Homo sapiens: one gene and its partners. The protein of the gene in region 3 purifies or fractionates together with the protein of the main gene of each other region. This does not show direct contact. Each region holds a gene or a part of one and is shown on either strand. Other genes may lie near its edges. The genes, in order: HMGCL, HEATR3, ESD and GUK1.

Region 1 (5,463 bases), on a different chromosome or scaffold from region 3:
ATGGAGTCTTGCTTTGTTGCCCAGGCTGGAGTGCAGTGGCATGATCTCGGCTCACTGCAACCTCCACCTCCTGGGTTCAAGCGATTCTCCTGCCTCAGCCTCCTGAGTAGCTGGGATTACAGGAGCCCACCACCACGCCCGGCTAATTTTTGTATTTTTAGTAGAGACAGCGTTTCACCATGTTGGTCAGGCTGGTTTCGAACTCCTGACCTTGTGATCCACCCACCTCAGCCTCCCAAAGTGCTGAGATTACAGGTGTCAGCCATCATGCCCGGCCAGCACTTTTCTCTTTAAAGAACACTGACACAGAGTAGCAAAAAATTTCTCTTAAGGTAAATTTTATGTTATGTGAATGTTATGGGTTGAATTGTGTCCTCCTAAAAATATATGTTGAAGGATTAAAACCCAGCACCTCAGAATGTGACCTTATTTGGAAACAGCGTCATTGCAGATATCATTAGTTAAGATGAAGCCATACTGGAATAGGGTGGGCCCCTAATCCCATACGACTGGTGACCTTAAAAAAAGATGGCCAGCCGGGCGCAGTGGCTCACGCTTGTAATCACAGCACTTTGGGAGGCCGAGGCGGGCAGATCATGAGGTCAGGAGATCGAGACCATCCTGGCTAACACAGTGAAACCCCATCTCTACTAAAAATACAAAAAATTAGCCGGTCGTGGTGGCACACGCCTGTAGTCCCAGCTACTCGGGAGGCTGAGGTGGGAGAATCACTTGAACCTGGGAGGTGGAGCTTGCAGTGAGCCGAGATCATGCCACTGTACTCCAGCCTGGGCGACAGAGCAAGACTCTGTCTAAAAAAAACAAAAACAAAAGATGGCCAAGTGAAGACACAGAGACACAGAAAAGGTGGCCCTGGGAAAACGGAGGCAAAGACTGGAGAGATGCATCTACAAGCCAGGCAATGCCAAGGACTGCTGGCCACCACCAGACCCCAGCAGAGAGGCATAGGACAGATTCTCCCAGAGGCCTCAGAAGGAACCAATCCTGCTGACACCTTGATTTGGGACTTCTGGCCTCCAGACTGTGAGAGAATAAATTTCTGTTGTTTTTAAGCCACCCAATTTGTAGTGCTTTCTTTTTTTTTTTCTTTTTTCTTTTTTTGAGACAAAGTCTTGCTCTGTCACCCAGGCTGGAATGCAGTGGCATGATCTTGGCTCACTGCAACCTCCGCCTTCCGGGTTCAAGTGATTCTCCTGCCTCAGCCTCCTGAGTAGCTAGGATTACAGGTACCTGCCACCAAGCCTGGCTAATTTTTTGTATTTTTAGTAGAGACGGGGTTTCATCGTGTTAGCCAGGATGGTCTCGATCTCCTGACCTCATGATCCGCCCGCCCTGGTCTCCCAAAGTGCTAGGATTACAGGCGTGAGCCACCGCGCCCGGCCTGTAGTGCTTTCTTACAGTAGCACTAGGAAACAAACACAGTAATTTCTCTTAATTAAAAAAAAAAAAACTTTGATTTTCCCCAAGGAAACCACCACCACTGCCATCACCACCCTGGAAGTCACTCTTGAGAAAAAGCTTTTTTTTTTTTCTTGCTGTGTCACCCAGGCTGGAAGAGTGCAGCGGTATTATCATGGCTCACTGCAGCCTCGAACTCCTAGTCTCAAGCCATCCTGTGCCTCAGTCTCCCGAGTAGCTAGGACTACAGGTGCATGCCATCACAGCCAGCTAATTGATTTTTTTTTTTTTTTTTGTAGAGACAAGGTCTCCTTATGTTGCTCAGGCTGGTCTCAAGCTTCTGGCCTCAAGCTGTTCTCCGGCCTCAGCCTCCCAAAGTGCTGGGATTATAGGTGTGAGCCACTGTGCCCAGCCAAAAAAAGGTTTTTGCCTAAATACAGAACCAACGCCTCCAAAGATGTTCTTGTCTAAAATTGTAAGAAAGTTGGCAGATGCCAGCAACTACTGTTGAAACTCTTGTGGAGAGTTTGGTTACATTTCTCTAAAGAAGTGGATAATCAAAAGAGCTAACATTTATTAAGCAGTTACCTTTTATCTGGCTCTTGCTAAGCAATGTACATGCATCCTATCTTCTGAAATGCTCACAACTTCAGGTACTATCATTTAGCCCTATTTTATAGGCTTGTCAACTTGTCAAGATCACAGAGCAGTGAGTGGCAGGGCCAGGTTTGCCCCAGGGTCTGGCTGACAGACAAGCTATTCAGATGGACATCCCAGGACAGGGGACTGAGGCGCCAAGACAAGGCAGGGACCAATGCCATCAATCTCATTTCAGGAGCCCCCACCAACAAGCTATCCTCTTACCGCTGCCTCGAAGCCTTTCAAATTTGGGGTCAGGACTGGGTAGTTGATGCCAGGAAACTTCTGAATGCCCTTCAAGACTTCAGTGTGGTCACCCATCTAGGAACCAAGGGAGACATTGCCAAGTCATCACCAAGAGCAGACAGAGAGTTCAGTTAGAGAAAACCTTTTCATCACAAAACCTCTGTTCTCCAGAACTCTTAGCGAGTAATTCCTTCTGCAGAGCTGAGTCTCTCCAATACTTTTACTGTTTGTTTGACTGCTGATGGCTCAGAAGGGCCCTTGGTTTGGCTGAGATCCCAATTTCTCCATATGGCCCATACTGCCAGCTTTACATATGCAGAAACAGCAGGAATACTACTACCAGCCATTTATTGAGAATGTACTCTGGGCCAGGCACTGAGCTCAGCTCTGTGTTAAGCACTCCTTTGTAACAGGATGTTTCTTCTTCACTTAACTATCTTTGTGAAGCAGGAGTTGTCAGTCTTCCTCTTTTACAAACAAAGAAACCACAGACAGGCATAGAGGGTTTTAGACTTTAGGGCTAGAAGAGGTCATCTCTAACACTGAGGAGGGGAAGGCCTTAGCAATGTCACTGAGCAAGTCAGAGCAGAGCCAAGACTGAACCCAAGGCCCTGAATCCTGGGTCATGTTCTTTTGCTGCAACACAGTGCTATGAATCACCTGAGACCTCTCAAAGCCAGGGGCTTGGAAACCTATGTTCTCAACTTCTACTTGCTTCAAAGGCAAATGCAAAACTTTTCATCCCTAGAGAAAGGCCTTTCATTGAGGGCTAGGGCTCACCTGGGGAACCCACTTAGGAGACACAAAGCTGGTGGTTTCTATAACAGAGAGTCCTGCTTCAGAAAGCATGTCTATCAGCTTGATTTTCACTGGAGTAGATACGATATTCTATAGTGGAGAGAGAAACACCAAGGCAGCAAAGTTAGTAACAAAACAGCCTCAAAATGCAGTACCTGTTAGTTCAAGTACTATAGATAATTTTTTGCAGTGGATGCAGCTTCTCACCTGAAAAGGAGTTATTTACATAGAAACATTATTCTGCCATGCAGGCTTTCCCGTAAGTAAATGTGTGTTAATTTATAATCCCATCATAAACAAACTGAGAGCAATGTGTGATGGCCTGAAAGGGCAGAGATGACTAACCCTCTGGGGAGTATGGGATGGGGCCCCCAAAGTATCACACCCTCCTCGCTTCTGTCTCCCAATTGGCATAGGACTTCAGCCTCATGTGTTCAGCGTATAGCTTCTTTATCTTCCTCCCCACCATGTCCAGTAGCTCAACAGATTCCATGGATTCCTCTTTCCAAATCTACCATCATTATCCTGTATATAACATGGCATAGTCTCAAGCCACTAATTCATCTTACACAGGAATCCTCCTAAAATGCAGCTTCCAACCTTCCATTCTCTTGCATCAAAAGCTTTCTATGGCTCCCTAATATTTACAGGATTACGCAAAAAATTCTAAGAACTCCAGGTCCAGGCGGACACATTGGCTCACGCCTGTAATCCCAGCACTTTGGGAGGCTGAGACAGGCAGATCATTTAAGCTTAGGAGTTTGAGACCAGCCTGGGCAACATGGCGAAACCCCCTCTCTACAAAAAATACAAAAATTAGCCAGGCGTGGTGGCACGTGTCTGTGATCCAGCTACTCAGGAGGCTGAGGTGGATCACTGGAGCCTGGGAAGTCGAGGCTGCAGTGAGCAATGATTGTGCCACTGCACTGAGTGACACAGAGCAAGACCCTGTCTCAAACAAAAAGAACACACAAAAATACTCCAGGTCCTTCTCGCTAGGTCCTCCCCTTGCCTGCCTTCTCCAGTTTCTCTCCCACTGCTCTAACTTAATCTTTCCACAAAATTTTTTTTTTTTTGAGATGGAGTCTCACTGTATTGCCCAGAGTGGAGTGCAGTGGCACAATCTCAGCTCACTGCGACCTCCGCCTTCCGGGTTCAAGCGATTCTCCTGCCTCAGCCTCCAGAGTAGATGGGATTACACAAGCATGCCACCACCCCAGCTCATTTATTTTAGTAGAGATGGGGTTTCACCATGTTGGCCAGGCTGGTCTCAAACTCCTGACCTCAGGTGATCTGCCTGCCTCAGCCTCCCAAAGTGCCAGTATTACAGGCATGAGCCATCATGCCCAGCCTGTCAAATAATTTTTGAAAGCCCTCCATGTTGCAGGCATTGTGCTAGGTGCCGGGGATATAGCAGTAAGCAGAAGCAGAACAGACAGGATTCTGCCCTTCGGGAACTTACACACTATTGTTTCCAACAAGCACTCACTATTAAAGCTAGGATGGACGTGCTAAAAAAAAAAAAAAAAAAAAAAAAAAAGAGAAAAAGAAAAAAGCTTTTCTTATTGAAAAAATAATCAATATATGATTCTTTCAGAAAAACATGCCAAAAACAAAAGAAAACCACCCTTAGAATCTCCCAGTGATAACGCTATTAACACCCTGGTGTGTAACTTTCTAGATCTGTGCAGCCCAATATGTCACTAGTCACATGTGGTTATTTAAATTTAATAAAAATTGTATAAAAATAAAAATACAATTCCTTGGCCACACTAGTCACATCTCAAGTTCTCAAGGGCCACATGGGTATAGTGGCCACCACATGGAAAAGCTCAGGTCCAGAATATTTCCATCTTCACAGAAAGTGCTGGTCTAGGTCCTAGTCTAGATAAATGCTCCCATACATATATAAACTTTTTTCTTACATAAAAGTGTTAAGATTAAAAAATACATGGCCAGGCGCATTGGCTCATGCCTGTAATCCCAGCACTTTGGGAGGCTGAGGCAGGTGGATCACCTGAGGTCGGGAGTTCAAGACCAGCCCGGCCAACCTGGTGAAACCCCATCTCTACTAAAAATACAAAAATTAGCTGGGCATGGTGGCAGGGGCCTGTAATCCTAGCTATTCGGGAGGCTGAGGCAGGAGAATCACTTGAACCCGGGAGGAGGAGGTTGAGGTGAGCCGAGATTGCGCCATTGCACTCCAGCCTGGGTGACAGAGTGAGATGCCATCTCCCAAAAACACACACACACACACGCGCGCGTGCGTACGCGCACATGCACTATTTGTTTTTGTTTGGAGACAGAATCGTGCTCTGCCTCAGCCTCCTGAAGTGCTGGGATTACAGGCATGAGCCACCA
Region 2 (8,288 bases), on a different chromosome or scaffold from region 3:
CTTCAAGTCCACACAAGTTTTAAGAAATCCTACACCAACAGTTCTTCTCCCATTTCTAATTATTTAACATGTTAGGTCAGAAGCAAATTGTTTTACCTTAAGAGTTTCAAGTGTACCATCTTCTTTGGCAAGGACGCTGCCAGTGATTCCTAAAATGCTAACGACATTCACTCTAACCCCGACATTACTACTATGAATGCCTGCTTTGCATAATGTCATCAGCTGATCAGGAGTCATGCACTGTTAAAAGAGAAGAGGACAGTATTTATAATGTTAAACTCAATTAATTCTATCAGCATGTGAAAACCGGACTGACAGGAATCTCCTCTATAGGCTACAGGATTTTAAGAGTGACATAAACTCCTGGCAGGTAAGTTACTATTAATATGTATTCCAGTTCTCCCAGACAGAGCTGGTAATTCTGAACTAAGGTGAACCCTGCTCATGTCGGCACTGTTATCTAATATCAAAGGGGCTCCATTTAATTTGATGAAGACTTTCATTCCAGATGTACACACACTAAAGAGAGTCCAATTCCTTTTTAATATTAATGGTAAGAAAAAGGCTTTGAAAGTATAAATAGGATTGTGTGGTTTTAAAAAAATTGGCTGAGTCTATACAAGGTAAGAACTTACTTTGAGATATCTGTATTATCATAATTAAAGACTGTAGAAACCATTACATTATATGGTGCTTCTACCATGTAGTGGATAATTTTCAGTTTAAGGCTGGGCGCGGTGGCTCACGCCTGCAATCTCAGCTACTCAGGAGGCTGAGGCACAAGAAACGCTTGAACCTGGGAGACAGAGGTTGCAGTGAGCTGAGATTGTGCCACTGAACTCTAGCCTGGGCAACAGAGTGAGACTATCTCCTATAAGCAGCAGCACAGTGTAGTGATGAAAGGCTTGGAATCTGGAGCCAGACACAAAGGCTTGGAATCTGGAGATTGAACCCTGGGTTCAAATCCTAGCTTCACTACTTATCACTCGTGTGAGCCCCTACACTAGACTAATGTATTTTTATTTTTTGTAGACATGAAGTCTCACAAAGTTGCCCAGGCTGTTCTTGAACTCTTGGGCTCAAGCAATCCTCCCGCCTCAGGCTCCCAAAGTGTTAGGATTATTAGTATGAGCCACTGCACCTGGCCCTGAACATGGGCTTTGAGTAATTTTCCTTAACCATCACACTGATCCCATAAGCTGCTGCTTACATACCAGGGGAAATCAATAAAAATACTTGATATTCCTATAGGCCCTAGAGTATAAGGTTTTCTGGTCCATCCAACAGCCACATGGCAGGCTATGCATCCCATTACCATTCCTACTTCTTAGAAACTGAGGGTCAAATTATGCTCTTCAAAAAAATTCTTAGCTTTGGAAAGCTGAGGCAAGAGGATCACTCGAGAGCAGGAGTTTAAGACCAGGCTGGGCAACATAGCAAGACCTCATCTCTATTAAAAAACTAAAAAATAAAAATAAAGTATAAAAAAATTTTAAAAGCATTAAGAAAAAAATTATATAAAGAAGCAAAAAGAAATAGTGTTATTGGCAATAACAAGAGCATTGTTATTTTGATACTATTAAGTACATTCCGTAGGATAAAGCAAATAATAGTTTTAATGTCACTACAATTTTAATGTTACTACAGCAAACAATTTTAATATCACTGTATAGCAAATAATTTTAATGTCTTTTAATGTCACTACTACAAAGTACATTCTGTAGGAGAAAGCAAATAATAAAATTTTTGAAAAATATTTTTCTTTCTTTTCTCTAATTTTAATTTTTAAATTATTTATTATTATTATTATTTTTGAAACGGAGTATCGCTCTGTCGCCCAGGCTGGATTACAGTGGCCCGATCTTGGCTCACTGCAAGCTCCGCCTCCTGGGTTCACACCATTCTTCTGCCTCAGTCTCCTGAGTAGCCAGAACTACAGGCACCCGCCACCACACCCGGCTAATTTTTTGTATTTTTTAATAGAGACGGGGTTTCACTGTGTTAGCCAGGATGGTCTTGATCTCCTGACCTTGTGATCCGCCCACCTCGGCCTCCAAAACTGCTGGGATTACAGGCGTGAGCCACCGTGCCCGACCTATTTATTATTATTTTTAAAGCCAGTCAAACTTAGCGTGGGGGGTTGTATACCAACTTCAGTGACACTAATGTTAATAAGTCCTGATAACCCACTACCATCAGACCAGCTGCAAATAAGAATTTTAATGTCACTAATGTATCTTTTTGGGTACAATGTACCTTTTTGGGTACAAATGTATCTTTTTGGGGGATACAAAAAGATAGAAATACAAAATCGAAAATTAAGTAAAAATATTGTACCATTTTTTATTTAAACTGGAAATTATCAGGATAAACTTACTATTTTTGTCTCCTAAAAAAATGCCTATTTCCTAGCTATTTCCACTAAAAAGACCTAGAAACAATGGCAACATGATAGCAATAAGCACTCCACAATTCACTTTCCCCACTAAAGAAATCAGAGCTTCTTGGAGAAGTAACTAATTCCAGGGTTTTTTTTTTTTTTTTTTGAGACGGAGTTTCACTCTTGTCACACTCTTGTCACCCAGGCTGGAGTGCAGTGCAATCTTGGCTCACTGCAACCTCCACCTCCTGGCTTCAAGCGATTCTCCTGCCTCAGCCTCCCAAGTAGCTGGGATTACAGGCGCGTGCCACCACACCCAGCTAATTTTTGAATTTTCAGTAGAGACGGAGTTTCGCCATGTGGGTCAGGCTGGTCTCAAACTCCTGACCTCAAGTGATCCGCCCACCTCAGCCTCCTAAAGTGTTGGGATTACAGGCATGAGCCACTGTGCCTGGCCAGATTCCAGGTTTTAAGCAAGAAAATTACAAATTGAACCTGGGACATCCTATGCCTGGAAGCAAAAGTGATCAAAAACCTAAAATTCTTGTAAAAGAGGCACAGGAGCCAATTTGAAGGGACTCCTACTATCCAAAGATGGGATGAATTTGGCAGCAAAAAGCATGACTATAATGGAATGAAATACAAATATATAAAAAACCCTGAGTTCAAAATGATACTAAAAAAAAAAAAATCACTGGTCACTTATAGAGATTGCTAGGATAGCTATTCTGAAAAAAAAAAAAATCATAGCTAATAAATGTAAAAAAAAAAAAAAGAAAAGACAAAATTAGGGTATCTCTATTCTGCAACCCACTAATGACATAATGGAGCCAGGCAACCACAATCACTGGTTATAAAACCATTATGTGAACCCACTAATTAATCTCAGCATCACTATTTTATAATATCATATGATTTGTGATATAAATATAGGAAATATATAAAGCACTATAAATTATTCTTGCCAAAAAATCTGGACCTGTCTAGATTATTTATTATAAATACAAAAAATAAATAAATAAATAATCTGGACCTGGATCTAATTAAGGCTCTAGACCTAGCTCCCGGCTCACAGGAAACATGGGGGACAGAGGAATGCTGAACGATGCCATCATGATGAGTTGGCCAAATCTGCCAGTGCAGAAAATGCTACGGAACAAAATGAGAGTTTCTTCAATGGGTAAGTGTATGGGGAAAGGAGGGGAGTGAGGGAAATGCTATAGACTAAGAGATTTAAGAATATGAGAATATACTAAAACCACTGAATTGTACACTTTAGTTACTTATTTTTGAGACAGAGTCTCCCTCTGTCGCCCAGGCTGGAGTGCAGTGGTGCAATCTCAGCTCACTGCAACCTCCACCTCCCAGTTCAAGCAATTCTCCCTGCCTCAGCCTTCCAAGTAGCTGGGATTACAGGTGCCTGCCACCATGCCCGGCTGATTTTTGTATTTTTTGTAGAGATAGGGTTTCGCCACGTTGGCCAGGCTGATCTTGAACTCCAGACCTTACGTGGTCCACTGGCCTTGGCCTCCCAAAGTGCTGGGATTACAGGCGTGAGCCACTGCAGCTGGCCTGAACTGTATACTTTAAATGGATAAACTGCATGGTATGTGAATCAAATCTCAGTAAAATTTTTTTTAGAGATAATAAGAGACCAAAATATCAACCAAAAGCAACACATGAACCTTGCTTAGATCCTGATTTGAACAAGCCAACTGTTAAAAGACGTTTTTTTCTTTTTCTGTTTTTTTTTTTTTTTTTTTTTGAGACGGAGTCTTGCTCTATCGCCTAGGCTGGAGTGCAGTGGCATGATCTTGGCTCACTGCAACTTCCGCCTCCCAGGTTCAAGTGATTCTCCTGCCACAGCCTCCCAAGTAGCTGGGATTATAGGAGTGCGCCACCATGCCCAGCTAACTTTTGTATTTTTAGTAGAGACGGGGTTTCACCATGTTGGCCAGGCTGGTCTTGACTTCCTGACCTCAGGTGATCTGCCCGCCTCAGCCTCCCAAAGTGCTGGGATTACAGGTGTGAGCCACCGTGCCTGGCCATGTTAAAATACATTTTTAAGGCAATCTGGGAAAACTGAACTTAGACTGCAGCTGGGAAAACTGAACTCAGAGTGCAAACCAAAGGATAATAAGAAATATCCGTTAATTTGGAGCCTTGGGGTAATGGTACTGGGGTTAAGATTTTTAAAAATTTATTTTTCTGTCAGACATGCATACTGAACTACATAATAAAATATTGATGGGTCTAATATGATTTGCTTTAAAATACTCCAGGAAACAAAAATAAGGACCCAGTGAGATGAATGAAACCATGTCACAAGAATGACAGGACGCTAATAACCTGCTGAGGCTTGGCGACGGTGCATGCAGGCTCATAGGGTTATCTCTGCTTTGGACATGGTAGCGCACACCTGTAATCCCAGCTACTTGGGAGGCTGAGGTGGGAGGATTGAATCCAGGAGACTAGCCTGGGCAACACAGTAAGACCCCGTCTCAAAAAACAAAGCAACATTATTATCTCTGCTTTTAGGAATGTTTAAAAGTCTCCTTAGTAAAAAGTAGCAAAAGTGGTAAGGCACCTATGGGAGATGAAGTGCACATGGATTGCTGTGAAGGGTCAGGAGGGCATGCTTGCAAAGTCTGTAATGAAATGTTAAAAAAAAAAAAAAAAAAAAAGCTGGGTACGGTGGTTCACGCCTGTCATCCCAGCACTTTAGGAGGCCAAGGTGGGTGGATCACTTGAGGTCAGGCATTTAAGACCAGCCTGGCCACACGGCAAAACCCCGTCTCTACTAAAAATACAAAAATTTTGTGGTGACGCATGCCTGTAATCCCATTTACTTGGGTGGCTGAGGCACGAGAATCACTTGAACCCAGGAGGCAGAGGTTGCAGTGAGCTGAGATCATGCCACTGCACTCCAGCCTGGGCGACAGAGGAAGACTCTGTCTCAAAAAAAAAAAAGATTTAAAAAAAAGACCAATGATAGAGAAATTATTTACAACATATCTATCAATTAAGTTGTATTGATTAAAAAGCACTTGTTTTGCTAGTAAGCCTATATATTAAAAAATTTAAAAAATTAAATTAAAAGCACCTGTGTGTTGCTGATGGTAGGGAGCAGAAAGATATTACTTTTTATTTTAATCACTTTTGTTTTATTTTTTACAAAGATCACATATTATTCTTGTAACAGAAATATGTATTTTTTAAAATAGTGAAGTAATGAATTTTGCCTCCATAATACACAATCTTTACAAGTTTCATACAAAAAATTTTAAAACTCTTACCTGGGAAATGTTCTTGGAGGCCATTGTTTGCAAAAGGGCCCTCAAAGCACTACTTATGGCTTCTAGAAAGTCAACATGTTTAGCAAAATCTAAAACACAAAAATGAAATATAAAATTTGCATTTCTCCAAGATAGGCTATTTTGTAGAAGCAACAAACAAAACAAAGCATGCTAAATGTTAATAAATGCTATTCTTAATAAAACAAACAAACAAAAAAAAACCCTCGATATTTAAGCCAAAATATTTAGTTAACAGCCCCCTGTACACTCTATACCTAAGTCTGAAAGATGATCGTGGTTAAAATAATCACAGCAAGGAGGTGTTCTACAGACAGTCCTTGACTTCCAGACACTGGGTTTTCATTTGACTCACACTTCAGCACATAATAAACCTAAGCTAGCTTTTGCAGACTGAATTCTGTCATTCATAGATCTCCATCAGGGTGCTGGGTAGAACTACCTTTGGTGGAGTCAGAATGCTTCCTTGCCAACCCAAGCCCACTGCTTAGCCACACACTGTTGCTTGTGCAGAGCCAGGACATGATGGCACCATCACTTTAACTGACCCAGCATCCCCTTCCCACTCCTACTCCTTATTCGCACACTTTTCTTATTGTCCCTTCTTCCCACACGGGACAAACAGAACACCAGCAGTAAGCCATTATGCTGGCACAGGCACGTGCAAGGGACAGTGAGGGTCACCCAGGGGAGTTGGCTCCTTAACCTCTTTGATGGGAAGAGATTTGCTTGGTGTGGTAGACTGTATTTTCTAAAAATGGCCATGGCAATATTTCAAGTCCTGTGTGATCTTCAAGAACCTTGCCACTTCCCATAAAGATGTGAAATCTACTTCTCCTTTCCTTAAATCAGGGTGGGACTTTGTGACTTCTTCAACCAACAGAATACAAAGTGACGGGCTAGGTCACAAAAGGCAGTATGACTTCCAGCCCTGACGCATGTGTGCATGCTCTTTTTTCTCTCGACTTCCGCCCTGGGAACCCAGCCATCCTGTTATGAGGAAGCCTGCGTCACATGAAGAGGTCACTGTGGGTGTTCTTCCTGACAACCCCTGCACCAACTGCCAGACACGTGAGTGAACAAGACTTCGGATGATTCCAGCCCATACTCTGCGAGTCTTCCAGCAGAGGCCCTAGACTAGTATTTCTCAGCCTCTGCACTACTGACATTTTGGACCAGATAATTCTTCATTTTATGTGTGCGCAGGGGTCTCCTGGGCACCGTAGGATGTGAAGGAACATTCCTGGCCTCAACCCTCTAGACACCAGTTGCAATTTCCAAGTTGTAAAACCAAAAATACCTCCAGACGTTGCCAAATGTCCCCAGGTGGGAGGTGGGAGGGGATAAGTGGCCATGGTTGAGAACCACTGGCCTAGACATTGTGGAATAGGAAAAAGCCATCTCCACTGTGCCCTGTCTAAATTCTTGACCAAAGGAAACTTCGAGAAATAATAAATGATTGTTGTTGTTGTTAAGTCACAGAGTTTTGGAATAACTTGTTACGTAGCAATAGATACACTCACTTCCTGCCCCACAGTTCCTGGGACTTATACCATTCCGATCCCCCACTTTTAGGTTACCCGGGTAGAAGAGAGGCAGCTTCTGTTCAAATTCTAATCCCGGCTGATTGTATTTTTTGGCTCTTTCATTTTCAGATATGTATTATGTACCAAAATAGGGGATTTCCCGTAATGATCACAGAATAATAGGAGAGCTTTACACACTCAGCCCTAGGATAGAGAGCTGCCTTTGACATAATTATGTGACTCCTCCTGCCTTCATTTTAGTCTTGGCTCAAATGTTACCTCCTCACAGAGGCCTTTCCACACTAACTGGCCTAGTGTAACGCCTCATATCATTCTGCTTTTACTTTTTTCTTCATAGCTAATATCACATAAAACATTTATTTATACTAGAATGCAAACTCCACGAACATATTGACCTGGCCTATCTTGTTCACGCCTGCATCCCTACCATCTAGAACAGTGTATGACATAAAGCATTCAATAAATACAAGCTAAAAGAATGACCTTGGGCCGGGCGCGGTGGCTCACGCCTGTAATCCCAGCACTTTGGGAGGCCAAGGTGGGCCGATCATGAGGTCAGGAGATCAAGACCATCCCTGGCTAACACGGTGAAACCCCGTCTCTACTAAAAATGCAAAAAAAAAAATTAGCCAGGCGTGGTGGCGGGCGCCTGTAGTCCCAGCTACTAAGGAGGCTGAGGCAGGAGAATGGCATGAACCCGGGAGGCGGAGCTTGCAGTGAGCCGAGATCGCGCCACTGCACTCCAGCCTGGGCGACAGAGCCAGACTCGTCTCAGGAAAAAAAAAAAAAAAAGAAAAAAGAAAAAAAAAAGAATGACCTGGAAGAGGTTCCTTAACCTCTCAGCTAAGGTTCCTAAATCTCAGCTTCCTCAGCAGGACAATGAAGTAACAAGGGCTGTCTCATAAAACGTGGTACCTAACAGGCACTCAAAAATCAGAGTGAAGTTGTTAATAGCCTGGACCTCCCGGGCTCAAGCAATCAGCTCCTGCCTCAGCCTCCCGAGTAGCTGGGACCACAGGCACGTGCCACCACGTCCAGCTAATTTTT
Region 3 (8,288 bases):
AAAGAGGACCTTTCTCAAGCAGTTGTGGAATAAATCAGGTCTAAAGTATGTTCAACAGTGGTATGATTAACACTTATGTAAAAGCAAAAAAAAAAAAAAAAAACACAACAGGATTATCAAGCAATCTTCTGAAACCTCTGTCCCTATCATGTCATTAAGATGTTGCTCAATTACCAAAAGAATACAATCTCATGCACAGATATTTGTGTGGTCACTCTGCATGTATCACTAATTCAATACCAAACTCCCCCAACCCTGATTGGTTTCATAAATTTCCTCTCTAATACAGTCAGTTCTATCAATTTCATCTACATTAAAAAAACCCCTTCAGACCAGTACTGCCGAACAGAACTTTCTACAGTGATATTAATAAAAATGTTCTATCTATGTATTGTCCAGTACAACAGCTTCTGGTCATGTGACTACTGAGCACCTGAAATGTGGCTAGTGGGACTGAAGTTTTATTAATTAGCTAATTTGATGTAAATGGCTACATGTAATTACTGGCTACCATCTCCAACTTTTGACCTGCTGCTTTCTAGTTGCTGCCTTAATATAGCTCCACTCATCTGGAAACTCTTTCTCCTCTGATCTGTTTTCTTGGATCTTATGCCTTCAGCTATCTTGCTTTAGTCCCTCATTTTGGTGAAGCATATTATTCAGTTGCTTCCAAAAGTGCATGGGAAATACACTTTGAGACCTTTCATATATGAAAACATCTTCATTCTACTCTCACTTAATTGACAATATGGTTGGACATAGAAGTTATCCTTCAGAATCCTGAAAGCACTGCTGCTCTGCCTTCTTAGTTCTAGTAATACCGTTGAGCTGACCTAAACCTTTGAAAAATTCTTAATCTACTTTCTCTTTTTCTCAATGTTTGAGAATTTTCTTTGTTCCCAACACTCTAAAACTTTACTATGTTGTTGGTGTAGATCTATTTTCATCCATTGTACTAGACAACTTTTTAAATCTGGCAACTTCAGTTCTGGGAATTCTTGAATTATTTATTATTTATATCTATACCTCTATTTCTGTTCTATTTTCCAAAATTCCTAACTTTTAATGTTGGATTTTTGGACTAGTCCTCTAATTTTGTTGTCCTTTCTGATTTATCACTTTTATCTTATTTTACTTTCTAGAATGTTCAACTAACCATTCTATTGAGTTTTGTCATTTCTACTACCAAAATTTAAATGTCTAGGCTTTTTTGTAGTTGAGGATTTTTTTATTTTATGTTTTTTGAGACAGAGTTTCGCTCTTGTCGCCCAGGCTGGAGTGCAGTGGTGCCATCTTAGCTCACTGCAACCTCTGCCTCCCAGGTTCAAGCAATTCTCCTGCCTCAGCCTCCTAAGTAGCTGGGACTACAGGTGTGCATAACCATGCCTGGCTAATTTTTGTACATATATATATATATATATTTTTTTTTTTTCAGTAGAGACAGGGTTTCACCATGTTGGCCAGGTTGGTCTCGAACTCCTGACCTCAGGTGATCTGCCTGCCTTGGCCTCCCAAAGTGTTAGTATTACAGGTGTAAGTCACCACACCTGGCCATGTACTTGAATATTTTTTAATAGCATCCTATGAAGTCAAGAGGTCAATATCTTTTATACTTTGATATGAAGAGAAGTTCATATCAAATTAAAGACTTTATACAAATGTCTAGTGATCTTTAGCTGTCCACTCCTATTTAAGAGAGAAACACTAAAAATCTAGTTGAAAGCACTGTGCCTACAGGTGGAGTTGTCAATCATTGCTTTACTGTAAGGTCTGGTTAGGTTACTTTGTTGGCAAATCTCAGTATCTTGAAATCTCTTCCTTTGGGCTACTCAAACTCCCCACAAAGAAATTCTTCTAAAGGATATAAGACTAAGTCCCCAAATTTTGAAAGCTAGTGGAAGAAACTCAGTGTGCAAACTTTTGCTTAATCTATTTGCAGTATCACAATCCCACTAATTGTGTCTGGTATTCCCCAGTACAAACAGTTTACTTTCTCTAGAGAACTTACCTCCAATCTTTCCCAGAGTTAGGAAGAGGCAGTCCATAAAGCTGGGACACTCTCAGATCTATCTCCTTTTAAAAACAGACTTTCAATTAATCTTTTTTCTAAGCTCAACTTTTATCCTTATTTTCAGGGGTCCCTGGTGCCTCCAATTACTATGGCTTTAAATAAATTGTGTCATTTCTCAGGTTTTCTTGCTTATGTTTAGAATGTAGCTTTCTAGGTTTTACTAAGTCAGGTACTACCTCTCCATTTGTATTCCTGCTTCTAAAATGTTATTCTTAGCTCCTGTCTCCTGCTTCTTTATGCCTTTATAGGTATATGTATGTGTGCGTGTGTGTTTAATCTCTTTACTTAATGCCATGTTAGTCAGAGTTTTGGAGGCAGCGGAAGCAAATGCATGTGTTTAGTGTGCCATCTTTCTCAAAAAGTCCAGGTGTTTTTCCTACACTTAGAGATCCTCAAAGAAAATGTTTTCAGAATTTTTACTGGCAACATAAGCATTTTCATAAAGTTTCAGAAGAGCATCATGTCAAAGCTTGAAGATACTTCTCTGTTAAGGCTCTACCTCACACAATCACATCCACAGTTAATTAAGTCTGGTAGAATTGTCAAATACATAACCACAGAAAGAGAGTAAGCAAGTTTAAAAGTAAAATGAGGTACTATAATATCTAGATAAAGATTGGTTTTAAAATAGAACAAAATAATCCAACAGAATGAGGTATCTAAAATTATATCTTCTTAATAGTTACCTGTCATGTTCAAAAACTTTCTGCAATCCCCCAAAGCACTTGTTGCTGGAAATCTGCTTCAATGCCATTCTTTTCCTATTAGTAAAGAGTAATCTCATTAATTTCCAGAGAATTAGTTACTGAAAAACTTGAAACAAAACTAATTGCCTTCAGATAAATTATCTGAACATACAACTATTTTCTACTTAGAATTTTTTTTTCACATTTTTCTCCAGTAAATAATATTAAGAAACTGATTAACGCTCATACATGCATTTACACTTGTTACTCACTTTTAAAAGCTTTCATACTTTGGTATATCATTACTAATTTATTAACAAGTTTTTTCGTTGTGGTGGACTGCCCCAAATTATTTTTAAAAGAGGCAGAAAATACATAAGTTACCAATTAATTACCTTAGTTTAGAAGATTAAAAATTGTTAATAGTCTGCCTATCAACTGCAACAAAGTAGTCAAGGAATTGGTATGACTGATTATAGTTGATTTTAAAATGGAAGAAAGATGTGATAATGATTTTGGTAATAATAATATGTAACATTACTGAACACTTACGGTGTGATACACATTTTTCTAGACACTAAACCAGATCCAATTACTCATCCCATGAATTTTTAAGAGAAAGTGATATGAAACTTTAAGATCAACATTTATTTCTCCTTTTAAAACAAACCAATAAGTAAAACAAGCCTGTTAACTTCTTTTCTGTCCAACAAATCTTTTGTTTTCATGTAAAAATAATTTTAAACTTACATGTAAAATGACATATTTTATTGCTTTTAATGATAAATACAGGAAAAAAGTTGGAAAACTATCTTTATCATAAATGCCTATTAAGCAAAGGGAAACCACACTGATTCTGACATGTACCTCTCAAAGAAAGATTCCCTTTCTATTCCTAGAAACACTGTATTAGAATATAAGGCAGTAAGTCCTACATATTGAAGAAAAAGCTTTAGATATCAGGAACAGGTATTACCACCCTGGTGATCTTCTCAGAGAAATGCACTACTACATGCTAATCAGCTGGAGCTTTAGGATTACTCTTTCAAAGATGTATAACAATAATCTTAAAAAGCTAATTTTGGAAATGTCTTTATAAAATACTTTAAAAAATTAGTTTCAATCTTATCTCTAATTTCTTCAATAAACCCAAATAGTTTTATTTTGGAAGACTGGGATTTGAACCCAGAAGTCTGACATCAGAAGCCCTACTCTTAACTGCTATGCTGTCCTGACTCTCTAGAGGTTCTTTAAATACTCATTTTTTAAGACACTTTAAGATAACTGATTCTATAGAATTATGATATTACAACTGTACACAAAGAAATTACCATCTGCTCAGTTTTATGCTTTTAATCTATAAAAGATTAATTCTTAAACAATAAACTCCCATGAGATGTTATTAGTTACTGAATATTAACTTTAGCTACTGTTAACAATCCTATCTTAAATAATGAACTTATAGAGAGAGATACTAATTTTAATATATTAATACATATATATGAGACCAACAAATAAAATTTATTTGCTCCATTATTCCACAAGGAAACCAGATTTTCTTAAACTTAGAAAGGACTATATCCACTTTGCAAAAGATGGTACACTGAGCACGTATCTGGTACATAGGAGTCTGTATCTTTGCTATTCGTCTATTTTAATAAACCTCAAGTTGTCAGTTTTCTCTGCTCTTAAAATTCAAAATCAAATGCTTTTCATTTGGCCAGAAGAAACAAGATTAAAACACTTTTTAAAAGTTGGTAGAATATTTTTTAAAAAACAAAGCTTTTAAAGTATTTTTTCTACCCACCATTTTAGAAACTATCTTTAATTACAAATCAAAAAAATATGTTAGGCTTAACAAGAAATATGACATAAACTAAGAACTAGATATGACATACTGTGATATACTATGATATCTGATACATTATAATAGGTGGTTATATTTTTCAATAGAATTTTTCTATGTGAAAAATAGCACGTTTTAAAACAAGCTATTAGTGGTATTTTCATTCAATGTTCAGAGTAACATATAAACAATAAAACAAGTTTACCTGTCCAATTGCTGATTGCTTTTTGCTTGCACCAAATGGTAGGCGATTCTGAAAAAAACACCAATGGTTTACAAATGGGATATACTTTTCACAGCAAAGGTTATACAGAGCTTTTATATGCATATGCATTCTCAATAGAGATGTTTTCTTCTTTTGAGGTAAATGACTGTACACCCTGATGGGATACCACATCACCACTTAATTACCTTAATTGCCCATAATCTAATTATTTGCCACAGGCCACCTTAATACCTATTTTGCCATAAAGCTTGTTGGTACTTGGTCAAAACCATCTGCTGAAGTAAAAGTACTATGAAAGTTTTTTATCTTTTTAAATCAATAAACAAAGTTTTCAAGTGTAATTTCGAAGCATGAGATGTAGTCAACTCCTGAGTGAAGAAAATAAGAGTGGGGACTAGGTAAGTAGAGGAAGATGGATCTATCTGGCTCAGTTGTAAGTCGAACTTGTAACATGGGGAGAAAGAAGGGAAGAGATGAGGACTGAAGGACTACTACTAGGGTGACTAGAAAGGATGTATAAGAAAAGTGGGCTTATGAACGATGAAGTGACTGATATTCAGTAAGAAAAATATATATGGAAACTTACATAGTATATATCATGTCACTTATCTGGTAGATTTCATTTAGGCTCTAGAACAAATATATATTTAGGTTCTAGAACAGATTTTGTGGGAGAAATAGGGTGACAGAGTAGGGTGGAATACCAAAAAACCAAACAACACCCTTCCTCCTTCCCCTCCAAAAAACAACAACAACAACAACAACAACAAAAACAGAAAAACAATTTCACAGTGCCAGTGGGAGTTACACAATTTTTCCCAAATGTTAGTGAACATCAACATTCTTTGGAGAAGAAAGGGTCTCTCAGTGCATAATACATCCATTCCCCTAAAGGTCAAACCTTACTGTTCTTCCCTTTATTTTTTATTTTTTGGAGATGGGGTCTTGGCTGTGTGGCCCAGGTTGTAGTACAGTTGCATAATCATGACTCAGTGTAACCTAGAACTCCAAGCTTCAAGTGTTCTCCTACCTCAGCCTCCTGAGCAGCTAGGACTACAGGTGCGTACCACACTGGAATATTTTTTTTTTTAATTTTTTGTAGAGACAGGGCCCTTTACTTATTAAAGTTAAATGTCATCCACCTCCAGAAATCTGAGTTCTATTTTTATCCTTCTTCCCCTGTGTCTCAAGTTTTCCATAAATCTCTACATGTGTTTTTTTGTTCCCATTCTCTCAGATTCCTTGGATTTTGATGTTTCTTCATTTCCAGGATGTCCTATTCCACTGGCTCTTAACAACCTAGACAGGTGTTCCCAAAACCAACAATCTACAGTTCCAATAACTGCTGTTGACCACCACTGTGTTGTTCAAATCCTCTTCTCAGTGAAAACTCAGGATCTGGCTTCTTCCCTTTCACTCTGTCTCCTCCCACCTCCCTTTTCTTTTTTCTTCACACTCTTTCCCTAAACCTCATTCCCTAAATTTCAACTACATTTTCTGGGTGAAATAATCTAAATCTGCATCTCTATAACCAATCTTTCTCAAGCATTAGTACCCATAATGACATTTCTTGCTGGACTCTTCTACCAAGACATGTCACCAGCTATTAAAACTTACCACACCTAAAATTAAGCTTCTGCATCTCACCTTCAAACCATTCCTCTTTTCATTGCCTCTCTTTTTCAGACTCATGCCTGTCTTGCCTAATCTACATTTGAGATGCCTCAAAGTTACCTTCTTTTTGAATTCCCACTGCCATCATCCTAATTATATATAAGAAATTAAAACTTAGCCTCTTCCTTTCTTCCTAATACATCCCACTACGATCAATCCTGCATGAAAGCCTAGGGTTTTAATCCACTTAATTTACTGGTCAACGGATCCCTACCAACAGCTCATCTGCAGCCTAATACGGCCTACGTGGAATTGTTAGTCATTTTTATTTAGTATTTTAAAAACTGTGATAAAAACACATACATAATATTTACTATCTTAACCATTCCTAAGTGTGTATTTCAGTAGTGTTAAGTATCCATTAGTCATATGTAAAAACGCAGTTCGCCAGCTCACAATAATGAGCAGATGAGAACTGCCTCATCACCCCCTGGCTGCTGCAGGTGGAGACTACTAATCCCTTTCGCTGTTAGGCCAGTCGCTGAGAACCAGAAAGTCACTGAAATGGAAGACCATGTTAATTGTACAATTTTCTTCAAGTTTAATGCCATTAAAATTTCATAAAATTAAAACCATGCAGGATCACTGAAAAAATAGATGAATAAAACTCCATATAAACTTCAGTCACACTCTACCTGTGTGCAAACACAGTCTTTTTTTTCTTCTTTTTTTTTTTTTTGAGACAGGGTCAAACTCTGTGGCCCAGATTGGAGTGCAGTGGCCTGATCTCGGCTCACTGCAATCATCTCGGCCCCCGGGCTCAGGTGATCCTCCCGCCTCAGCCTCTGGAGTAGTTGGGACCACAGGTGGCACCACCATGCCCAGGTAATTTTTTGTAGAGGAGGTTTTGCCATGCTGCCTAGGCTGGGTCTCTTTTCCTTCATAAAAATTCACATGGCTTGCCTAGGTAAGGATTTCTATTAAACTCTGGGGAAAATTTTTTAAAAAAAATATAGCATCTATAAACGCCAAACACCTTCACATGGCTCTAAATATGGTCTATAATTTGGTCCCAGATTATTTTTCTGGTCTCACTCCCTATTTTGTTAGTTAAACTCAACTATGCATAATTCTAGGATGGCCTGGATGTTGCTATCGGGTGGCTTTACTCAATGCCACGGTACAATGGTTTCAGAGCAGGTTTTGGGGCCAGACCCTCCGGGTTCAAACCCTGACTTCACCACTTATTACTACATGACACTGGGCAAGCTAATCTATGCCTCATTTGCCCATCTGCAAAATGGGTATACAGTAATATATATCAATTTGATAGGGTTGCTCTGGGAATTAAATGAGTTAATTCACGTAGTGCTTAAAATGCTGCTTCTACCACACACACAAACATGAGCTATTATTTTTCCTGCAACCTGAATGCCCTCTCCTTCCAGGTGCGCTCAATCCCATTTCCCTAATGACCCCATCAGAAATGACTTCCAGTCCCCCACAGCGCTCTGAGAGCATTTTACGACCCGAACAGATTTTGTCAAACTCCAAAGACACGTGCTCCCCTCGGCACCATCAGGTGAGTGCTCCTGACCGCGCCATTGGCTCGTGCCCCGACGCGGACGCTGCCTAGAGCAGCAGGTCCACACTCCCCCGAACCAGGCGCCGGCGGCCGCTAGTAACGCGTTGAGGCCAGCTCCCTCCTTAAAATGCGTACACATCTACTTCACATTTTCGCGCGGTGGCTGCGGGTCTAGGAAAGTCTTTCTGAACAGGAAAAAGCTGTACAAATGTAGCGGGCAGTAGGTAAACGGGCGCTCGCCCCGGGTTACACTAGGTTGG
Region 4 (7,875 bases), on a different chromosome or scaffold from region 3:
CAGCAGGGAGTGCCTTTCCAGGAAAGCGGCTGCTGGGGCAGCATGGGAGCCCAGTCCAGGGAGCGTTCTGGCAGAGACCATTCCGGAACATGGATCTGCGCCGGCGGCTCCCAGGAGACCTTCCATCTCGGAGCTCCTGTGGAGACCACGTGCCTGGCAGGTCCTTACAGTTGTGGGTTGTGTGGCTTCTTGCCAGGCAGCTGATTGGAGTTTGCGACTGTGGGTTGGTGAGAGTGGAGAGCACAGAATGTTTGCTGGAATGCTTCCCTCTGCCCACAGGAAGACACCTTTGGCGCATGTGTTCTGGTCAGGGCAAAGGCTCCGTGGTTTCCACCGCAAGATTGCAGGAGCCTTGAGGCCTGGGCCACAGTTTTCTCCCTTGGGTGTGCTCCATGGAAGGTGGCTTTGGTGACCGCCCTGCCACTGGTCTCTCCCCAGGCAGGCAGGCAGCCTGTGCCTCCGCCCTGTCTCCAGCGGTGGTGGTGTGGCTGTGCTTCTGCAAGGCCCGCATCCACTCACTGTCTGCCCTCTGCACTCTCTGGCTGGCCAGGGCCCCCAGTAGTCTGCTCATTGTGCCCTCACGCTTGGGCAGAGCCGAACTCAGGGGACCCAGGAAGAGCGGAGTGTTGGCCCGTCCAGAGTTCTTGGCAATTGGTGTGTCATGTGTGCCTCGTGCCCTGTGCTGGGCGAGAGTGGGCACAGCTGCGCAGACAACGCCCTTGGCGAGGCTGGAGCCTGGACCCCTGCCTGGCAGCAGCTGGGTGAACTGGTGTCTTCTGCCTGCGGGCCCAGCCTCACCTCAATAGCTTACTGCTCCCTCAGGAGGGAGGAGGGGAGGCCTGGGAGCCTGGGCTTGGCGGGGTAAGGGTGGTGCAGGGGCAACACCTGTGGAGGAAACAGGCGGGGTTGGGGCCCACCAGCGTCTGCTGTCTGCTCTGTGCTGGGTTGCATCTGTTGGTGTCTGATCGTTGTCAGGGCCCTGTGGTGAAGAGACACACCTGCCACTTGCTGCTTGCGAGGAAAGGGGGAGATCCCCAACCCAGGAGCCAGAGGTGGGACTCCAGCACCCCCCATTCCTGGGAGTTGGAAGTGAGGCACGAGCTCCCCAATTCCTGGGCATCGGGGATGGGGTTTGGGGCCGAGGAGGGGATGGAGACCAGGGTCTTGTGGTAGTTTGGTGGGATCCTCAGAAGGTGTGGCTCTCCCCCTTCTGAGGACGCAAAAACTCCCAGAGTTTTTGGCGATTGATGTGCCACGTGTGCCTTGTGCCCTGTGCTGGGCGAGTGTAGGCACAGCTGTGCAGACGACGCCCTTGGCAAGGCTGGAGCCTGGACCCCTGCCTGGCAGCAGCTGGGCGAACTGGTGTCTTCTGCCTGTGGGCCCAGCTTCACTTCACTAGCTTAGCGCTCCCTCAGGAGGGAGGAGGGGAGGCCTGGTCAGTGGAGGTCACCACTGTGTTTCCTTCTGTGTGGGTTTATAGTCACGTAGCATCTAGGTTCAGACCCGAAGAGCTTGGAGCCAGGGGCTGGGGGGAACAGGGCAGGACCGGCCTTGGGGCAGCCCTGTCAGGCCCACCAGTGCCATGCTGGTTGTGGGTTGGCAGGGCAGAGTGACCTTAAGAAGGGCCAGCTCAGTGGAGCAACAGGACAGAAGCTCACATGGGGTCCAGCCCACAGGACCATTTGAGTAGCTCTCCCATATCGGGTCCTTCGAAGCACATGATTTAGCTTTACTTTTTCTCCTTCGTATTAGAAAAGTCACCATAATACCATCAAGTCATAATTTCTGTGATCTCAGTGCTTCAAGTAGGTGTGTAGCAATTGCTGGATGTGTCCTGAGAACTGTACCCCTTCCACCCTGGCGAGAAGCAGGGGCCAGAAATTCACACAAGTGGCATGGCTCATTGATTGTGGGAGACTCTGGGGGGCTCCTAGCTAGTGCATTATGGGAACCAGGCTGTGGAGGTTGCAGGGCTCGCTGGCTGGGAGAAGCTGAATGGATAAAGAACCCTGGCCACTGCAGTGCGTGCTGATGGTTGGCTGGCACGTAGAGGAGGTGGCAGGGCTGGGTGAGCAGCAGGAGCCAGGTTAGTGGGGAGGCCCGAGCTAAGCGCAGGGGCAAATTCTGCGGGTGGGAGAGCCAGGAGGGCATGGGGTGCATGGTGAGATGAAAACGATGTGTGCTTGTGACAAAAAGCCCAGAAGAGGCAGTAAGGAGGGAGGAGTCTATCCCTTATGGAGAGCACATGGACTTCTGGGTGGGTGTCCTGCAGTTCCCTTCCTCTTGAGTCTTTTTAACTGGGGGTCCGGTGTGTTTGTGATCAATGACATGTATGCGTGTGCATGTGTACCTTTGCAGGTACACATGTGTGGTGTGTGTGCATTTGCTTGGTGTGCGTGCATTTGTGTGTGTGTTTGTGTGTGCATGCATGTGTGTGTGTTTGTGGTAGGTTTGTGCACACATCCTGCATACCTTTGTGCCTGGGAGTGGCATGTGTGTGGTGGGTGTCGCTGTGCATGATGGAGTTGCAGCCGTGGTGCATTTGTGAGATTACCTCGGTGGCCTAAATTGGGGATTAGGAGGGCATCCTCAGGTCCTTCCCACTGTCTGCTCGTCTGCCCACAGGCGGCTGTGCCCTAAACAGGAGGAGGCCATTCACGCCTCGCCTGAGTTGTGTCCAAGGTGTGCGTGTGGCCAGGGGTCCATCCGCTTCCCTCTAGCCCAGCCCCTGAACACAGCTGCAGTGCACGGCCCCACTCCTCAGCTCTGCTCCCCATCCCAACTCGAAGACGCTGCCCTGGCCCTGTGTGTGCAGCTCATGTGGACTGGGAGGGCAGGGCAGGTGCAGGTCTTGGGGCAAGAGCTGGAGCTGTCTTTTCCTTCCTGCACAGCCGCAGAGCAGGTGGATGGGGCTGCTTCCCTGCAAGGGCCCAGGGCCAGGCCCCCTGGGGATTTATTCGTGGCTTAGAAGGGTGGGGCCAGAAGCAGGCGTAGTGGGGATTAGGGACTCAGCACCCCCAGCTCTCAGTCCAGCAGACAGACCCACCCCAGGCTGACTACAGAGGCTGCACCTCAGCAAACAGGTAGGCCCTGTTCTTGGGGAGGATTCCCACCAGGCAAAGGCCAGCTCCCGGGCCCTCACCTGCCACGTGTCCAAGCTAGGATCCTGTTTGCCTTTCCCTTGGGGGCTGGGAGGGAGGCCTCCAACCCCCTCTGGCATTACCAGCATCACAGATAGGAGTCCCAAGTCCTATGAGAAGTTCCTGGAATAGGTGTAGATTCAGTAGATCTTTACAAGACCATATCTGCAGGGCAAGGTACCAGAGGACAGAGGCGGGGACAGGGACACTTCCATTCCAGACCTAGCAGCCCAGCACTCAGCACCATGCATGGGAGCAAATGGCTGGACTCCTGGGTGGGGTGGGGGTCTCAGAGCAGGCTCCCAGAGGGCTTGGAGGTGACTCCACCAGGTGGGGACGGCAGCTCCCAGGTAGGGTGTCATCAGAGTAGACAGCATTGCTTGCTAGGGACCCCTGGGGAGGCTGACAGGGTCAGTGGGTTTCAGTTGGGGGGCTCCCCTGCTGAGAACCCAGTAAAGCCGGCCTTCCATTCGTCTCCCGTGTGCCCAGAGCCTGGTCTGAGGGCCGCCCTGTGCATGCCGGCCCTTCCAACGTGGCAGAGCTCAGGGGGAAGAACACCCAGGCTCTCAGGAGACTCTCAGGCCAATGTCTCCATCCCTGGGTCAGCCCTTTCCTGCCATGAATTCAGGAAGGCAGAGGCAGCTCAGCAGATGGGGACTAGAGGCCGCACTGCTATCCACAGCCTCTCTTCTCACCCCCAGGCATGTCGGGCCCCAGGCCTGTGGTGCTGAGCGGGCCTTCGGGAGCTGGGAAGAGCACCCTGCTGAAGAGGCTGCTCCAGGAGCACAGCGGCATCTTTGGCTTCAGCGTGTCCCGTGAGTCCAGGGCTCTCGTGGAGGGGTGCGTAGACCTCAAGGCTGCTGAGTAGTCCTAGCACCGTGAGCAGGCCAGGAGCCCAAACCCAACAGGCACACCCACCCTGCAGACTGTCCGAACTCTTGCACACTCCCCCCCACACAGAACCTGAGGTTATCACACTCCTGCTGTCCTGCGTGCCTGTGTCTCCCTTCCCTGGGTCTGTTGAGTACTGATAACTGGGCCACAGTGTTTCTTTCTGGGAGAACCCTCGCCTTGTAGGCTCCTGCGCCTTCCCAGTGGTGTGCTTCACTGGCTGCCTGCATCCTGGGGCTCAAGTGCTGTCGGGACTGCAAGGGAAACGCTGGGTGGGGCATTGGGCTCCGAGCAGCCCCCGATGGGTGACAGGTCTCTCTGCTAGATACCACGAGGAACCCGAGGCCCGGCGAGGAGAACGGCAAAGGTGAGTGGGGTGGGGCCCTATGGCTGGAGCACCCCCAGTGTGGGCAGGGCTGCTGGGCCCTGCAGCTGTGTTGGCTGTGCTGCCCGTCTCCTGCCCCCATCAATCCCTAATCTGTGAGATGGGTCCTTGCCTCCAAGGGCCGGTGAACTCAATCAGGGTGTCAGCGCCACAGCGTGGTGTCGCCTTCCTTGGGTACAGTGTGAGAGGCCGGCCAAGGCCTGGGGCTGTCTTCCTCCCACCTTGGAGGCGGCCACAGTGCTGCTGTCCCCAGCCCTGTCCTGGACTCGGCACTTATCAGCACTTTTGAGCTGTCTTCTGGAGTCCTGGTAAAAAGGGCTACTCTGCCTGCCTGATTCAAGACAAGGGACCCCCTTCCCAACAGCACCCCCGCCCCTTGCCGTGCAACCCAGTGGTCTCCAGTCACCCCACCACATCGTCCCCTCTGTAACCTGACGGTCTCCAGTTCCCCCACCACCTTCCCCCAGAACCTGTTGGTCTCCAGTCCCCACCCCATCACCACCAACTCCCAACTCCCCACTGGAACCCAGCAGTCTCGTATCTCCATCAGTGAGGACAGTGTGAGAAATGGTGTCTGGCTCAGGCACTTGGCAGCACTTGAGGGGTCCTCAGATGTCTCCTGCCCAGCAAGGATCTGACTAAAGCAGTCGTGGGTGTGGGAGGGGCCTGCAGGCATGCCTGGGTTGGGGGCAGCTGGCCCTGGGCACCCTGGTGCAGGTCCAGTCTGCCCTCTGGATGGCCCCTCCTCTTCCCCAGATTACTACTTTGTAACCAGGGAGGTGATGCAGCGTGACATAGCAGCCGGCGACTTCATCGAGCATGCCGAGTTCTCGGGGAACCTGTATGGCACGAGGTGGGCCATGCGTGGGTGTGGGTGGGCTCCCAGGGTTGCTGTTGGCAACAGGGATCCAGGTAGTGCCTGCTGCCTGCCCGCCATCCACACCACCCACCCCATGGTTATGAATGTGGCCAGGTTGTGGCCCAGGGCCAGGCTCCCACGTCTGTGGCCCACAGTGGCTCTTTTCATGAGGCTGCTGGGCCCGGTCCTGCCACCGTGCATTGTCCTGGCAGGGTGAAGGGTGCACAGGACACCTCATGCTCACTACAGGCACCTTGGGGAGTGGGTGGCCTCTGTTCCCTGTAGGCGGGGCAGGGCGTGGGGGTAGCAGGTTTGAGATGCTGTCGGGTGCTGGGTCCAGGCCAGGCCTAGGCTCAGCTGTGGGAGGAGAACGCTGGGCCCGGGAGGGCCTGGGTGTCCCTGAAGCTCCTGTAGGCCTCAGAGAGCCCTGGCACCCCTGCTGACCTGGCACCTCTCCCCAGCAAGGTGGCGGTGCAGGCCGTGCAGGCCATGAACCGCATCTGTGTGCTGGACGTGGACCTGCAGGGTGTGCGGAACATCAAGGCCACCGATCTGCGGCCCATCTACATCTCTGTGCAGCCGCCTTCACTGCACGTGCTGGTGTGTGCTGGGCAGGGTTGGGGGCTGGGGGCCAGGGCATGCCAGGCTCTGATTGCCACCCCCTTTTTAGGAGCAGCGGCTGCGGCAGCGCAACACTGAAACCGAGGAGAGCCTGGTGAAGCGGCTGGCTGCTGCCCAGGCCGACATGGAGAGCAGTGAGTGTGCCGTGGGATCACCAGGGAATGCCAGGAGGGGAGTCAGGGTTCTGAGGTCTGTGGCACCAGGGACCCTGTGGGTCCCCAGACCTCCTGACACCTGGAGTCCCTGTGAGGGTCCTCAGACCTCTCAACTACCTCCCAACACCTAGAGTCCCCGTGAGGGTCCCCAGAACCCACCCCCAGTCACCAAGGGTCTCATTGAGGGTCCTCAGATTTCCCTCTGTTACCCAGAGTCTCCGTGAGGGCCCCCAGACCCCCCATCGCCCAGGGTCCCATGAGATGTCCCCAACCTTCTAGCCCCGGGGGTGTCATGTGCATCCTCTTACAGCTGTTGCCTCTTCTCTGGGTCTGACTGCAGCCCACAAGAAGAGGGCATTTAATGTTCTGCTGTGTGTGTAGAGGATAGTGTAGCCCCTAACCAGAGTCCTGATGGGTGCTGGTGTCCAGACCCAAGTTCTGGGGCTCCAGAGAGAGCAGGAGTGGTGCCTGAGGACTGAGGCCCAGGGGGCGGCCCTTCCCTACCCTGCACAGGCCCGGCTGGGCTGGAAAGCTGTCCCACAGCCGCAGTGAGGACAGCCGCAGGCCAGTGGGCTGCTCTGGGGGTCGTGTGGGACCTGGGGTGGGGCTGCATGGGCTCACTGTGCCCTGACCCCAGGCCCCACCCACAGGCAAGGAGCCCGGCCTGTTTGATGTGGTCATCATTAACGACAGCCTGGACCAGGCCTACGCAGAGCTGAAGGAGGCGCTCTCTGAGGTGGGCCCATCCTTGTGCCTACCTGGGCAAGGCCCAAGGGGAGGCCTGGGGGCCAGGCCTTTGTTGTCCATGAGGCCACTGAGGTTAGATGGGACAGTCCTACCCAAGCACTGGCATGAGACACCGAGGTCCACGGTGGAGGGAGAGCAGGAAGCCCAGCCCTTCCTGGATACCAGCCCTCCCAACTCCCTTTCTTCCTCACTGGCAGGAAATCAAGAAAGCTCAAAGGACCGGCGCCTGAGGCTTGCTGTCTGTTCTCGGCACCCCGGGCCCATACAGGACCAGGGCAGCAGCATTGAGCCACCCCCTTGGCAGGCGATACGGCAGCTCTGTGCCCTTGGCCAGCATGTGGAGTGGAGGAGATGCTGCCCCTGTGGTTGGAACATCCTGGGGTGACCCCCGACCCAGCCTCGCTGGGCTGTCCCCTGTCCCTATCTCTCACTCTGGACCCAGGGCTGACATCCTAATAAAATAACTGTTGGATTAGAAACTCCATAAATGAGTGGAATGTGGCCCCAAGGTTGGTGGGGCCCCATCATCCCGATCGGGCCCTGAGCTCCGGCAGCCCACCCTAACCACCAGCCCCAAGGAGGGCCACAAGATGGCCTCTGCCTAGGCATCTGCTGCCTGCCGGCTCGTGGCTGCTGCCCCAGGGCAGCATGATGCTTGACTGGCAGGCAGGGAAGGTGGCAGGGCTGGTCCCAACCCACCTGGCAGGCTGGCAAGTGGGGAGCAGGAAGCGGCTGCATGGGGCAGCCTGAGGCTGCAGGGGTGGGCCCTGAGGGCTGCCTCTTGGTGCCCGACCCTGTGGGTCTGGCATGGGCCAGAGGTTCCAGGAGAGGCCCCTGAGCTCTGGCAGCTGGAGGTTCTAGATCTCGAGGTCTAAGGGGTTCCCTGAGGGAGATGCCCCTCCCCTAGCTGCCCCAGGGGCTGTGTGTGGTGTGTGAGGAGCCTCCTCTGCTCAGGCTGCCTCCCTCCTTCCCCAGTGCTCCCCCAGCTTGCCTGTCTAAGGCAGCACAGGGCCGTGCTGCCAGCCACCCCTAGGGTCAGCCCCAGCCCTGTTCTGAGCCTAGGTGAGGTGCCTCTGG

What was found.
Region 1: the proteins of ESD (region 3) and HMGCL fractionate together in Homo sapiens (co-fractionation; one large-scale study listed by BioGRID). This does not show direct contact.
Region 2: the proteins of ESD (region 3) and HEATR3 purify together in Homo sapiens (affinity purification with mass spectrometry; one large-scale study listed by BioGRID and IntAct). This does not show direct contact.
Region 4: the proteins of ESD (region 3) and GUK1 fractionate together in Homo sapiens (co-fractionation; one large-scale study listed by BioGRID). This does not show direct contact.

The regions. Positions count from the first base shown.
Region 1 is NC_000001.11:23,814,392-23,819,854, forward strand, and holds part of HMGCL (hydroxymethylglutaryl-CoA lyase, mitochondrial isoform 1 precursor), read right to left. Parts: intron 3,193-5,463; coding exon 3,085-3,192; intron 2,380-3,084; coding exon 2,284-2,379; intron 1-2,283. UniProt on the Homo sapiens protein: Mitochondrial 3-hydroxy-3-methylglutaryl-CoA lyase that catalyzes a cation-dependent cleavage of (S)-3-hydroxy-3-methylglutaryl-CoA into acetyl-CoA and acetoacetate, a key step in ketogenesis. Terminal step in leucine catabolism.
Region 2 is NC_000016.10:50,092,182-50,100,469, reverse strand, and holds part of HEATR3 (HEAT repeat-containing protein 3), read right to left. Parts: intron 5,766-8,288; coding exon 5,677-5,765; intron 241-5,676; coding exon 97-240; intron 1-96. UniProt on the Homo sapiens protein: Plays a role in ribosome biogenesis and in nuclear import of the 60S ribosomal protein L5/large ribosomal subunit protein uL18 (RPL5). Required for proper erythrocyte maturation.
Region 3 is NC_000013.11:46,788,589-46,796,876, forward strand, and holds part of ESD (S-formylglutathione hydrolase), read right to left. Parts: intron 4,857-8,288; 5' UTR 4,809-4,856; intron 2,833-4,808; 5' UTR 2,826-2,832; coding exon 2,758-2,825; intron 1-2,757.
Region 4 is NC_000001.11:228,141,670-228,149,544, forward strand, and holds the end of GUK1 (guanylate kinase), read left to right. Parts: coding exon of another isoform or gene 1-160; intron 161-3,026; exon of another isoform or gene 3,027-3,083; intron 3,084-3,841; coding exon 3,842-3,955; intron 3,956-4,356; coding exon 4,357-4,398; intron 4,399-5,172; coding exon 5,173-5,269; intron 5,270-5,736; coding exon 5,737-5,875; intron 5,876-5,945; coding exon 5,946-6,030; intron 6,031-6,701; coding exon 6,702-6,787; intron 6,788-6,995; coding exon 6,996-7,028; coding exon of another isoform or gene 7,029-7,183; 3' UTR 7,184-7,282; downstream 7,283-7,875. UniProt on the Homo sapiens protein: Catalyzes the phosphorylation of GMP to GDP. Essential enzyme for recycling GMP and indirectly, cyclic GMP (cGMP). Involved in the cGMP metabolism in photoreceptors. It may also have a role in the survival and growth progression of some tumors.